Linked DNA regions of Homo sapiens: all the other regions are linked to region 3. Evidence: fine-mapped expression QTL. A gene starts in region 3. Each other region holds a variant in brackets. All regions are shown on one strand. Distances are between the middles of the regions.

Region 1 (4,240 bases), 92 kb before region 3:
CTATCTCGCTGTGTCTTAAACCAGAAAGCTCTGCATGTGAGGTGGGCCCAGAAAAGATGAAGGTGACTCTAGAAAGACCCAGTGTGCCTACGGGTGTAAGCCTTCTAAGTCTCCCTGTTTCTGGTTTTTCCACTCAATTTTTACTGCACCAAAGAGCAGACAAGGAGGAATATAGGAGAGAAAGCATGGGCCATAAAAGACACTAATATAGTGTTACAAAGTCCAAGTCTATCCTTAATCACAATGTATACAAACATGTTATGTTTCCTCATTAAAAGGAAGGAGGGAGACAGAGAAGGGAGGAGACTTTTTACAAGAGATTTACCTACAATAAAACCAAACAATAGAAAAGGTTGAAAAGAAAGGAAGGAAAAAGGGTACACCAAGCAAGTTCTAACAACAAGAGAAAAAGCTGTGTAGAATTATTAATATGAGACAAAACAGACTCTAAGGCTAAGCATTTAATGGGCATAGAATGGAATATTTCATATTGATAAAAAACCAATAATCAATCCCTAAGTTGTCGAACAATGTCCAAGTCAGGAAACCTAGAAGTTACTCTTTTTTTCTTTTTTTTTGAGATGGAGTTTCCCTCTTGTTGCCCAGGCTAGAGTGCAATGGCACAATCTCGGCTCACTGCAACCTCCTCTGCCTCCTGAGTTCAAGCGATTCTCCTGTCTCAGCCTCCCAAGTAACTGGGATTACAGGCATACACCACCATGCCTGGCTAATTTTGTATTTTTAGTAGAGACAAGGTTTCACCATGTTGGCCAGGCTGGTCTCAAACTCCTGACCTCAAGTGATCCATCTGCCTCAGCCTCCCAAAGTGCTGGGATTACAGGCATGAACCACCACGCCCAGTCTAGAAGTTGCTCTTAATTCTCCACCCTCTCACATCTAAAACATCAGCAAGTCCAGTTTATTCTTCTTCCAAAATGCATTGTAAATCCACCCATTTCTTTCCATCTCCACAGCACATCATCCCTAGTCCTGGCCACCATCTTCTCTCAAATGTAGTCCTGCAATGGTGCTCTAACTGGCCTCCTGACACTGAAATTAATCTCCCCCAAGCAACTTCAAATTGGTTAACCTGGCCAACATGGTCTTCCGCAGGCAGGCCTCTGCCCAACTCTGACTGCACCTCTGACACTGTGACTCTCATCCAGGCACAGTGGCCTCCCTTCTGTCACCTGATCAGCCCAATCAGTTACATCTTGAGCCTTTGCAGCAACTTTTCCCACTGCATAGAATGCTCCTTTCTCACACCTTCAGGGGTATAGCAGTCCTTTAAAATTCATCTGTTAGTTTAAATGGCACCCCCTAAGAAAGGAGGGTGAAGTTTTTCAATACTTGTTAATATAGGAGCATAAGAATTACTGTAATTATCTTTCAACCTATTTGTTACCTTTATAAATAAACTTCTTATGACATAGACTACTAACACTAATCTGTGAAATGTTGAATTATGATGAAAACAGAGAACTGAGAGGCTGGGCACGGTGGCTCGTGCCTGTAATCCCAGCACTTTGGGAGGCTGAGGCAGGAGGATTACTTGAGGCCAGAAGTTTGAGACCAGCCTGGGCAACATAGTGAGACCCCTGTCTCTACAAAAAAACAATATAAAAATCAGCTGGACGTGGTGACACACACCTATAGTCCCAGCTACTCAGAAAGCTGAGGAGGGAAGACAGCTTGAGCCCAGGAGGTCAAGGATGCAGTGAGCTATGATCACACCACTTCACTCCAGCCTGGGCGACAGAGTGAGACCCTGTCTCAGAGACAGCGAGAGCAAATGGGGGTAGGGGGGAACACTAAGGATTCTCCTTCAAATAGTCCAATTTATTTCTTTTTTGTTTTTTTGAGACGGAGTCTTGCTCTGTCGCCCTGGCTGGAGTGCAGTGGTGCGATCTCGGCTCACTGCAACCTCCGCCTTCAGCGTTCAAGCAATTCTCCTGCCTCAGCCTCCCAAGTAGCTGGGATTACAGGCGTGCGCCACCACACCCGGCTAAATTTTGTATAAAACAAGTACCATCCACTAGATGGCGCTTCTAGCCTGTTCTATCCTGTTCTTGACTCTTTTCAGGACCCT[G/A]GACAGTGCCTGGTGTACAGCAACCGTTCCGTAACTATTGAATGATTTGTCATAAACTTACATGCACCCTGAACCTATCAGCACAGCTTTAAAATATATAAGGCAAATGGGTCTACAAAAAGAAAGAGACGAGTGTGAAGCCAACCCACACCCCTTAGAAACATACTAGGGAAACCCAAAACAACAAAGAACTTTTTAAATGCAAAAGTAGAATGACTGCTTTTACCCTCTGTATTTCTGAATTATTTTTTCAGGATTAATATGTATTACTTTGATAAATGAGATTAAATTTTTCTTCATGTTCCCTTCTCAAATTGTAAAGTCTTTTACTATGGTTCTAAGGAGCTGGTCAAACCTGTTCAGGGGTGTTAAGTGCACACCAAGATGGAAGGTGACAGGAAGGTGTATAACATTAGGATTATATTTAGGTTTATTCTTTTTTTTTTTTTTAGACGGAGTGTTGCTCTGTCACCCAGGCTGGAGTGCAGTGGCATGATCTCAGCTCACTGCAATCTCCACCTCCCAGGTTCAAGTGATTCTCCTGCCTCGGCCTCCCAAGTAGCTGGGATTATAAGCCTGCACCTCCACGCCCAGCTAATTTTTGTACTTTCAGTAGAGACGAGGTTACACCATGTTGGCCAGGCTGGTCTCAAATGCCTGACCTCAGGTGATCTGCCAACCTTGACCTCCCAAAATGCTGGGATTACAAGTGTGAGCCACCACGCCCAGCCTGTTTAGAGTTATTCTAAAAATCATAACTTCTTGGAATTAAAAAAGTTCTATACATGGCTAGTAACCCCTTCTGCAGCTGAAACTGACTACAAGTCCCCTTCTGTCACCCAGAGTGACCAGAATTGTGTTCTGTGAGGGGCAGGGTTCACTGGATAGCATGAGGTGACGTGCCAGGCTGAATTCTCTCCCTGCAGTGGAGGCTACTCTACAATAAAGTGAAAGGAAGATCTGACCTAATGCCCTGCAGAGCTTCATTTCTCCCACCATCTGGTTTTGTAAGGAAAAAAAGTATGTGCTTCTATGTATTTTTTTTAGCACTACTCCTTAATTTAAATGTCTATTTAAAAAAGACCAAAGCTTAACTGGTTATCTTTGAAATATAATTTCTTTTTATTTTCTTCTTTTACTTCTTTATATTTTCTTATATTTCTACAATCATAAGTACAAATTAGGTGGCAAAGAAATGATATAAAAGAAGCATGGTATCTGCCAAATCAAATTCTCTGGATGAGCTAATGCCCACCCAAGTGGCAAGTTGAGGAAAGGAGGGTGCTGTTGACTTACGGTCCATTTCTAATCTGTCCTGAGCGTTGGTAAGGCCAGGGGCTGGACAGTGGGCTATTGGAGAGGACTCCAGTCTCAGGCCAATGTACTCGGTACTTCCATCAGGAGGGTATGTGGCAGCTGGCCCTTCCATCCACAGTATCTTTTGGGCAGCTATACTGATCACTGTGGGAAAGAGAGTTTCTGCGGTGCCAGCTGAGTTGGTCTTCCCTGTGTGAGACACCCAAGGGGAGCCATGGGCGGCCTCTGAGGAGAAAAGTCTTCTTATTGCCTTCATGTCTTTATGCCCCGACAGCATAACCACTCAGCAGAATTCCACAGTTGCTCAAGGAGGTAACACTCCCTTGAAGCAGTGGAGTATAATCAAACATCTTGGCCCCTCCTGAAAGCCACTCCCACCCATTTCAGTCCCGATAAGTTAAAGATCTTAAGTAGTTTAGACACATGCCTTTGCTCAAGGAAATTCACAGAAACCACCACAGCTACACATATTATTGAATGACTCATGAGTTCTCCTTCACTGATTAATCCTTTTCCTCATCCCTTCCTACCCCTCCCATCTGCCCTAAGAACAAAGAGCTTGTAAACCAATAAATCAGGCAGAGCCTGGGCTGTGAGCAAGCCTCCGATGCTCAGGTCCCCTGGACCTGCTTTTTAAACGCTTATTCTGTCTCTTTCTAACTCCTTTGTCTCCGCTGGACTCAGGGTAGCAGGTGGTGTGGGGCTGGTTTCCCCAAACAATCACTGTAACAGATAAGGCAACATAAATACACTTTCTCATAACTTGTCATCTGCACTAGATTTAACAGCAGCACCAGTGATTCTGCAGTGCCCTCCAGGCACTGGAGCAGGATG
Region 2 (4,240 bases), 200 kb before region 3:
AGAATACAAATAAATTAGCTAGGTGTGGTGGCATCCACCTGTGGTCCTAGCTACTCAGGAGGCTGAGGTGGGAGAATCGCTTGAGCCTGGGGTGGTCAAGGCTGCAGTGAGCTGAGATTGTACCACTACGCTCCATCCAGCCTGGATGTCAGAGGGAGACCTTGTCTCTAAATAAATTAATAAATAAATAATAAATAAATGGGTGTTGTATCAAGCAGCCACACCTGTGGTCATTTGTAAGAATAAGTCATTTCCTGGTCAGGCGCAGTGGCTCACACCTGTAATCCCAGCACTTTGGGAGGCCAAGGCGGGTGGATCATGAGGTCAGGAGATTGAGACCATCCTGACTAACACGGTGAAACCTGTCTCTACTAAAAAAAAAACAAAAAAATTAGCCTGGCTTGGTGGCGGGGGCCTGTAGTCCCAGTTACTTGGGAGGCTGAGGCAGCAGAATGGCGTGAACCTGGGAGGCGGAGCTGGCAGTGAGGCGAGATCACGCCACTGCACTCCAGCCTGGGTGACAGAGTGAGACTCCGTCTCAAAAAAAAAAAAAAAAAGTCATTCATTTCCCATTCTTACAAATGGCCACAAAAGGAAACGCCTATGCCATGTGAACACGTTCTCAGAATAAGTACAGGAGGCAGCCTGCAAGTCTGGGCGACTCTTCCTACTTTCTTTCCATCAAATTCCTTCACCTTCTTTAGAACAGACACAATGACTGTCAATCCTGAGAAACTTCAAGGTGCGCTACCTAGAATATCAACCAGCTCAACCAGAAGCTGATCCTGACACCTGTGTCCTACAGGAAGTTCTGATTTGCTCAGGTGGAGAGGATTTCCCCAGCATCCCCTGGTGGCCACAAGGCCATGGGGGAGTCAGCACAACCTGCAGAGATCCCCTGGTTCAGGGTGGGTGGAAACAGGGGGTTCGGGGGCTGAACAGTTAGAGGCTGGCCAGGAGCTAGGGAACTGGATAGGTATGAAGGGTTTGAAGCTTACCTGTCGGAAGGTTCTGGGGTGGAGGAGTCTGTGGAGGGAGCTTCAGAGAGCAGGAGGGGCATTAGAAGGCTGGGGCCCCTGCAATCTAATCTTTGTTGTGTAATGCGTTTCCCGCCCTATCCCAGCCTAGCTTCTGCCTGGTGATCTCAGACCCCTGCAGGGCAGCTCCCCACTCACCCCTGCACCATCCTCGCTGTCACAGTGCCTGATGCCCCAAAACTGGAAGTGTGCCTGCCATTGCCTTTCCCTGCCTGGTTTCCAGCAGTCCCATCACATGGCTCCAAAAAACAGCATCGGGGTTTTTTTCTAGAACCCAAATTTATAAACAAGGGGCAATGTCCTCTGACAAGGTTGGTTTGTGCTCAGTATAATGGTAGCCAGGGCTACCTGGATCAGGAACATCTTGTGATCCCCTCCCTACTCCCCTGGGTCTGGCTTGCTGGGCCTCACACCCTCTTCACACCCTGGTCTCCCTGAGAATTAGATGCAGCTCCCCATGTCACCAGCTGCTTACTGGGACTGCCCAGCCCAGGCCCACCTTGAATCCTCACCACGTTCCCCACTCTATGGACCCAGCGGCTGCTGTGTGTCCCATGGAGCCAGCCCATGGTGCTGGCAGAAGATGGAACAGTCGTCCTCCTGGGCTGGCCCCAGGTCACCCAAGCAGGCTTTTCTCCTCTCCTCACCTGCCTGATGGTGCCCACCCGATGTGGGGCAGTCCACAGGGCTGCTGGAGCTTAGTGAGAAATGAATCCCTTCCCAGCCCCCAGGGGCTTGCCCAGCAGCCTTTCCCCATTGGTGCTAGTAGCCTTGGGCCTTCCCAGAGACTGCTGCAGGCCTGTCCGTAGCATGAGGCCATTGCTAAGGTGAAGGAGAAGCCTCTGTCCCCTCTTCCCTCCCTGGCTCAGCTCACCTGCTCTGGCAGTGTGCTTGGTGAGGCCAGGTGTGCTTCCTCCCTTCCTCCCCAGGGCCTCTCCACCTCGGTCCACACAGGGGCAGTTTCCCCAGGAAACTCTAACTCATTCCATTACCTTCCCCCAGCTGATCTTGGAAACCCCCTTGCTGTGAATATTGGCAAGCTTAAGAGCTTATTGCCCCCACCATGGCGTCCAGCTCTTGATCAGTGTGCTTTGAGGGCTTTGTCTTCCAAGCCTTGGACAACCCTGAATGCTGGTTAGTCTTTGGCTGGCTCCAAGACGCAGTGTCACACAAGTACCACCCTGTGGACACGCTGAAGTTCCCATGGAGTCTTTTCTATCGAAAACTCAGCCTCTTTCAGGCCAAACACCGGCTCCCTTCATGTGCATAGCTTTCTAACTGGTACAATTTCCCCAAAGATAATTTAGAATTATAGTGATCACTTTGGGGAAACTCTGATATATACAAAACAAAAACAAAGCAAAATTCTGAATATCCAATGGTCTGCTGTCTTTAATTGGTATGAGGAGGCTCCTAAACACAATTTGGACTCAAAAAATGCTTCTCTAAAATATTCTTTAGCTATAACTAATATGAAATAG[G/T]AGCATCTTTTCCCTCATGTGCATCTTTTTTTTCTTTTTTCTTTTCTTTTTTTTTTTTTTGAGATGGAGTCTCACTCTGTTGCCCAGGCTGGAGTGCAATGGCACCATCTCAGCTCACTGCAAACTCCTTCTCCCAGGTTCAAGTGATTCTCCCGCCTCAGCCTCCTGAGTAGCTGGGATTACAGGCCTGTGCTACCACGCCCAACTAATTTTTGTATTTTTAGTAGAGATGGAGTTTCACGATGTTGGCTAGGCTGGTCTCAAACTTCTGACTTCAAGTGATCCACCCACCTCAGCCTCCCAAAGTGCTAGGATTACAGGCATGAGCCACCGTGCCCGACCAAGCATCTTTAAAATGTTGACATTTCCAATGCCCTTGCCACATTTTGTGAAAGGCTTCAGGTCCAAAACTGTCACTATGTTGGGTAAACAAAAATGTTGGCTGGCAAATCACTCTATTGCATAAACATCAATATTTGGCTAAACATTTTTTTTTTTTTGAGATGGAGTCTCGCTCTGTCACCCAGGCTGGAGTGCAGTGGCGTGATCTCAGCTCACTGCAAGCTCTGCCTCCCCGGGTTCACACCATTCTCCTGCCTCAGCCTCCCAAGTAGCTGGGGTTACATGCGCCCGCCACCATGCCCGGCTAATTTTTTTTGTATTTTTAGCTAAGACAGGGCTTTACCATGTTACCCAGGATGGTCTTGATCTTCTGACCTCATGATCCACCGGCCTTGGCCTCCCAAAGTGCTGGGATTACAGGCATGAGCCACTGCACCTGGGCTTGGCTAAACATTTTAAGGAGACTCTGGATATCAAGAATAAAAGACCCCTCATGAGGAAAATCTTTGTCTTGTTTGCCTAAATGACAGATCATTTTGTTTCACAGGGAGGCATCACTTCCTTCCTTTCCATAAGTTGGAGATTAATACATTCTGGCTTTTAAAAAATTGTATGGCTTGATAGAATTGTCACAAACTGAAATTATGTCAAAACCAGATATAGGACACTCTCGTGTGTGTATTGTATATATGTCTAAACTTTCATCCCTCTTCTTACAGAGAAAAATGATTAGTTATTTGTCTAAAGCCAGCTCCCTCTCATTTTTTTTCTATCCCATTTCCTCTCCTTTTCCCTCTTTTGAAAACTTAACAAAATGAAAGACTTAACAAAAATTACATTCAGCCGTTATGCATATATTCTAGGAATTTTTAGTTCAGGTAAAGTCTAAATTGTCTAAAGAAAAAAGTTATTGAACTATTTTTTATGGACACTAGAAAATGTATTTCCCTGATAACCTTTTAAACTAGCTATGACAAAAGAAAAGACGCCAACTTCAAAATAAAGGAAAATGTTAGCATGATTCACTCCTTATTAGTTTATTTTTTTAAAAAATGTTAGTACAATATTTTGGCTTATTCCAGACCAAAATTAGATTTCTTATAATTCAAACTTCCTAAATTTCCTACATTAATTTTATTTATTTATTTATTTTTGAGATGGAGCCTCACTCTGTCCCCAGGCTGGAGTGCAGTGGCACAATCTCGGCTCACAGCAACCTCCACCTCTCAGGTTCAAGCGATTCTCCTGTCTCAGCCTCCCGAGTAGCTGGGATTACAGGTGTGTGCCACCATGCCCAGCTAATTTTTTGTATTTTTAGTAGAGATGGGTTTTCACCATGTTGGCCAGGCTAGTCTCAAACTCTCGACCTCAGGTGATCCA
Region 3 (4,240 bases):
TGCTGCTTCTCAGTCTCCTTTGTTGGGTCCTCCTTACCCTTTTTTATGTCATCCAAAGGACCACCAGGATGGCTAGATAGTAGAAAAGAAAGTTGGCCGGCACAGTGGCTCACACCTGTAATCCTAGCACTTTGGAAGGCCGAGGCGGGTGGATTGCCTGAGCTCAGGAGTTTGAGACCAGCCTGGGCAACACGGTGAAACCCCATCTCTACTAAAATACAAAAAATTAGCCAGGCATGGTGGCGTGCGCTTGTAATCCCAGCTACTCAGGAATCTGAGACAGGAGAATCATTTGAACCCGGGAGGCGGAGGTTGCAGTGAGCGAGATCGCGCCACTGCACTCCAGCCTGGGCGACAGAGTGAGACTCCATCTCAAAAAAAAAAAAAAAAAAAAGAAAGAAAGAAAGAAAAGAAAGTTTTATTCACAACATCAGTTTACAAACTCGGAGAGATAGTCTCTGGCTTGAACTGAAAGTGGTGCTCTCTCTGAAGAACAAAGAGAAGGTTAGAGGTTTTACAAAAAGGAGGAATGTTACATATTGCTCTTTGAGAAAGTTCATTGGCAGTAGTAAGGGTGTGGGGAGCTGACAAGCTCCAGTTGGTGAGCAACTGCGGTGGGCAAAATTAGTCCTAGAGTTGCAGCAACTTATCTCAGAAGCTATAGATAAAACTGGTTTTGGCTTATAATAAGCAGTTTCAGCAGTCAAGCTTACAGAGAATAACATTCCTGGAGCAATGTTGTGTACCCTGAGTGCTTCCCCCAGCTAATTTCTCGACTTTCTTTTATTAGGTATGACAAAAATGACCCAATTCTTATGATCAGCTTTCACATTTCTTAGCATTTACCACCACCTGACACATTTTTATATTTGTTTTCTGTTTATCCCACTAGAAATGTAAGCCCCATGAGAACAGAGACTTTACCTCTTTATCTATGTCCCTAGTGCCCAGAACAGTATTTGGCATATGGCAAGTACTCAGTAGTTGAATGAATGAATGAATCAAGGCTGAAGTTTAAGTATGTTGTTTAATGAATGCCAGGAGAGAACATAAAGAAATAAACAGAATAAGCCTGGCACGGTGGCTCACGCCTGTGATTCCAACACTTTAGAAGGCCAAGGTGGGGGTGGATCACCTGAGGTCAGGAGTTCAAGACCAGCCTGGCCAACATTGTGAAACCCCGTCTCTACTAAAAAAAAAAAAAAAAAAAAAAAATAGCCAGGCATGGTGGCACGTGCCTGTAATCCCAGCTGCTCAGGAGGCTGAGGCAGAAGAATCGCTTGAACCCGGGAGGTGGAGATTGCAGTGAGCCAAGATTGCGCCACTGCACTCCAGCCTGGGCAACAAGAGCAAAACTCCATCTCAAAAAAAAAAAAAAGACATAAACAGAATAACATGAACCTTGCTCATTGAATAAACATTCATCTACAACCTATATGGCTTCAGCTTTGTACTAGGTGCTAAATACATGGGATCCATGCAGACATGGCCTTTGCCCTTTTGGAGACTTGTTTCAGCCATAGTCCCATATAGGGGTGTCAGTTCCAGAAGTCCAAACTTAAGAGACTGAAGACCAAAGAGAGGATCAGAGTGCCAGTTTCCTTTATATACACCTGACTTTACCCAGGGCGATGGACAGCTAGAATAACCTCTTCTTTCAGGGGAGAGATGTCCCTACCATTTGCACATTACCTTGCACCATCAACTTGATTATTATTTAATATCATAGCTCCAATATGTCATCATGTGGGCAAGAGATACACCACAGTAAGCGAATTCACAAGAGGGTGATTTATAAGTCATGTTATTATTTATAGTGAGAATTGCATAAGTTCAAGAAGAGACCAGAAAAGTCACCTACCAGGTCATTCAGACGTGAAGGTCACTCCCTATCAACCTCAATTGAAATGCAAATCAAAATAGAAATGTCCAACTCTCTTAGGAGGCAACAGGCATCCTGAGACCCTGGGTCCTGTCTTTCATCTCTGCACCCTTCCGGTCTGAAACAGCGGCCAGTTCTTGTTCGATGTAAGGAACACTAGTACCCAAGGGCTCAGGAGTTCCGCCTCTCTTCCCCAGTTCTGGGAAAAGAAACGAACCATAGAGATGTGGCTTCCTAGAGATCCGGGATGAGGGGCGGGGTGCAACCGGAAGTCGCAGTATTCTCGGCTCGGCCATTATTCTGTGCCTCGGCTGCCGGAAGGGCTCGTTCCTGTGTCATCTCCTAGCGGCCTGGCGCCGAGGCGGCGGTACGCAAGGCTGGAGCCGCAGCGGGAGCCCCCGGTGAGCGGGGTGGGCTCGGGGGCGGGTGGGCGTGCAGGGAAGGCGGCCCGGGACGCGGGCCTGAGCTTGCTGGGACTGCACAGCCCTCGGTAGCCTCTCCCGGGCCCTGACCCCCGGCATGGTCCGTCGCCAGCTTCGTGTTGGGGTTCGACGTCGTGGCCTCGGCTGGGCAGGCAGCCGGCCCGAGGGAAGTACTGAGGACAGCAGCTCCGAGTCTGTGTGTGTTTGTGGACCGGTGCTCCTGTCTAACGGACTCTGCTGGCGCTTTGAGAAGAGCTGCCTCAGTAGCCTGCTCCCCCAGCTCAGGCCTTTCTGCTCTTCCTCAGTCTTGTCTGAGGCTAATCCACAGAAACATTCTGAGGTTTCCCTATTACCGGTGGCGCCCAGACTCTTGAGGACGGATTTTTTTGTTTGTTTGTTTTAAGGGGTGGAACGATTTTAGCTTTTTTAGTCTTTTAGTTTTGTAATATAATGGTATTTAAAAATCAAACTTGAAAAACTCAAACTTGAAACCACCCATACCAACATTACTTCAGGCAATACATTTTAACACAAAGTACTAAGACCGTAAACTCAGAATAAATGCTGGCCTTTGCGCGCGCGCGCGCACACACACACACACACACACACACACACACACACACTCATTGCCAACCTGTCAGCGACGATTGTTACTGGTTTTCTCTTTTTGCAGCTTACCAGATTAAAGCTTTGTCGTGGACTGGTGTTTGGAAACTGTTGTTTTAGAACAGTTTGGGTTGTTTGGGTTTCATAAGTTTCTTCGTAGATGGAATTGTTTTGGACTTCTGGAATTAGAATCCCTGAATTCAGAATTTGCTCCCATGTCTCAGTTAGCTAAGTGGCCTTGAGTGGATTCGCTCCTCTGATCCTTTTGTTTTTTTTAACTTCTGCTTTGAAAACCTTTTGTGAGAAGCTAATAAAATGTATGTTTAAGAATTTGTTATTTTTATGTTATTTGAAAATTATTCAAAATTCTTTTTAAAAATTCCTTTCCATCACCCCCAGATCAGTTACCAAGGACTACCAAGTTTTTCTCAATTGCCTTATCCCTACTTCGTTTAGAACTTAAGTCATGTGTTTAGACTATTAGAAAAACCTAACTGACCTTTCTTGATATCCAGCCCTCCCACCCCCACCATTTCTCACTAATAGAGTCCTGACACCACTTAAGACTCTCTTCATGCTCAGAGTGAAAAAGGTCTTTCTAATTGTGGTACAGTACCCAGAAGTCGTAAAAGATTGACTGCATGGCAAAAAACACTTTAAGCAAAGTCACATGGCATATATAGTCACAAAGACACTTGACAAACTGAGAAAAATTTGCAGCTGCCATTGTAAACAAAGGACTAATTTTCCTGTGATAAAAGTGTGTACAAATTAACAAGACCCAACACCTCAATGGAAACATGGGCAAAATATATGAATAGTTACTTTAAAAAATATACAAATGACTCTATATTAATTCGTTCAAAATGCAAGTCAAAAATTTGGCGAAGAGCACAAACTTTGAGAAACATATTGGTGAAAGTGAGGAAAGGCACTCCCATACAGCTGTTTCTGATGGGAGTATAAATTATAAATTGGTTCAATCCTAGTGAGGTCAAATTGGCAATATCAAAATTATACATGTATATACCTTTTAACTCAGCAATTCTGATTCAAGGAATTTTTCTTATATATGCCTACACACATCCAAACTGATGTATGCCCAAGATTATTCATGATTATATTGTTGGTAATAAGAAATGATTGAAAACTACCCAAACATTCCATCAGTGCTGGCATGAATAAATTATGATACATCTATGCATCCATAAAAATGCGGAGAGGGGCTGTGTATTGACAGGAAAGATCTCTAAGACATATTATTGAGAAGAGGAAAATGTACCACGTCATTCATGGTGTCCTACCATTTGTGAAAAAAAGGGAACTAGAA

Evidence for each region. PIP is the estimated chance that this variant, and not a neighbour inherited with it, causes the effect.
Region 1: its variant is fine-mapped to the expression of ZNF197 in whole blood (TOPMed, PIP 0.97).
Region 2: its variant is fine-mapped to the expression of ZNF197 in whole blood (INTERVAL, PIP 0.96).

Annotation. Positions count from the first base shown.
Region 1 is chr3:44,530,938-44,535,177 of GRCh38, forward strand. No RefSeq gene overlaps it. Among named protein-coding and RNA genes, the nearest start is that of ZKSCAN7, 22 kb to the right of the region's middle. RefSeq lists silencers at 1,920-2,048, 1,940-2,234. The variant G/A (reference allele first, on the strand shown) is at 2,090.
Region 2 is chr3:44,422,965-44,427,204 of GRCh38, forward strand. It overlaps the pseudogene C3orf86P. Among named protein-coding and RNA genes, the nearest start is that of LINC01988, 2.8 kb to the right of the region's middle. RefSeq lists an enhancer at 1,880-2,019. The variant G/T (reference allele first, on the strand shown) is at 2,519.
Region 3 is chr3:44,622,861-44,627,100 of GRCh38, forward strand. ZNF197 (zinc finger protein 197) reads left to right here and starts at 2,176. Exons shown (of 6, transcript NM_006991.5): 1 at 2,176-2,283. All of the region lies in intron 2 of ZNF660-ZNF197 (ZNF660-ZNF197 readthrough), which reads left to right. The region is part of intron 2 of ZKSCAN7-AS1 (ZKSCAN7 ZNF cluster antisense RNA 1); the gene reads right to left. It overlaps ZNF197-AS1 (ZNF197 antisense RNA 1), which reads right to left and starts at 1,937. Exons shown (of 2, transcript NR_046658.1): 1 at 1,862-1,937. RefSeq lists a silencer at 2,180-2,529 and an enhancer at 2,509-3,011.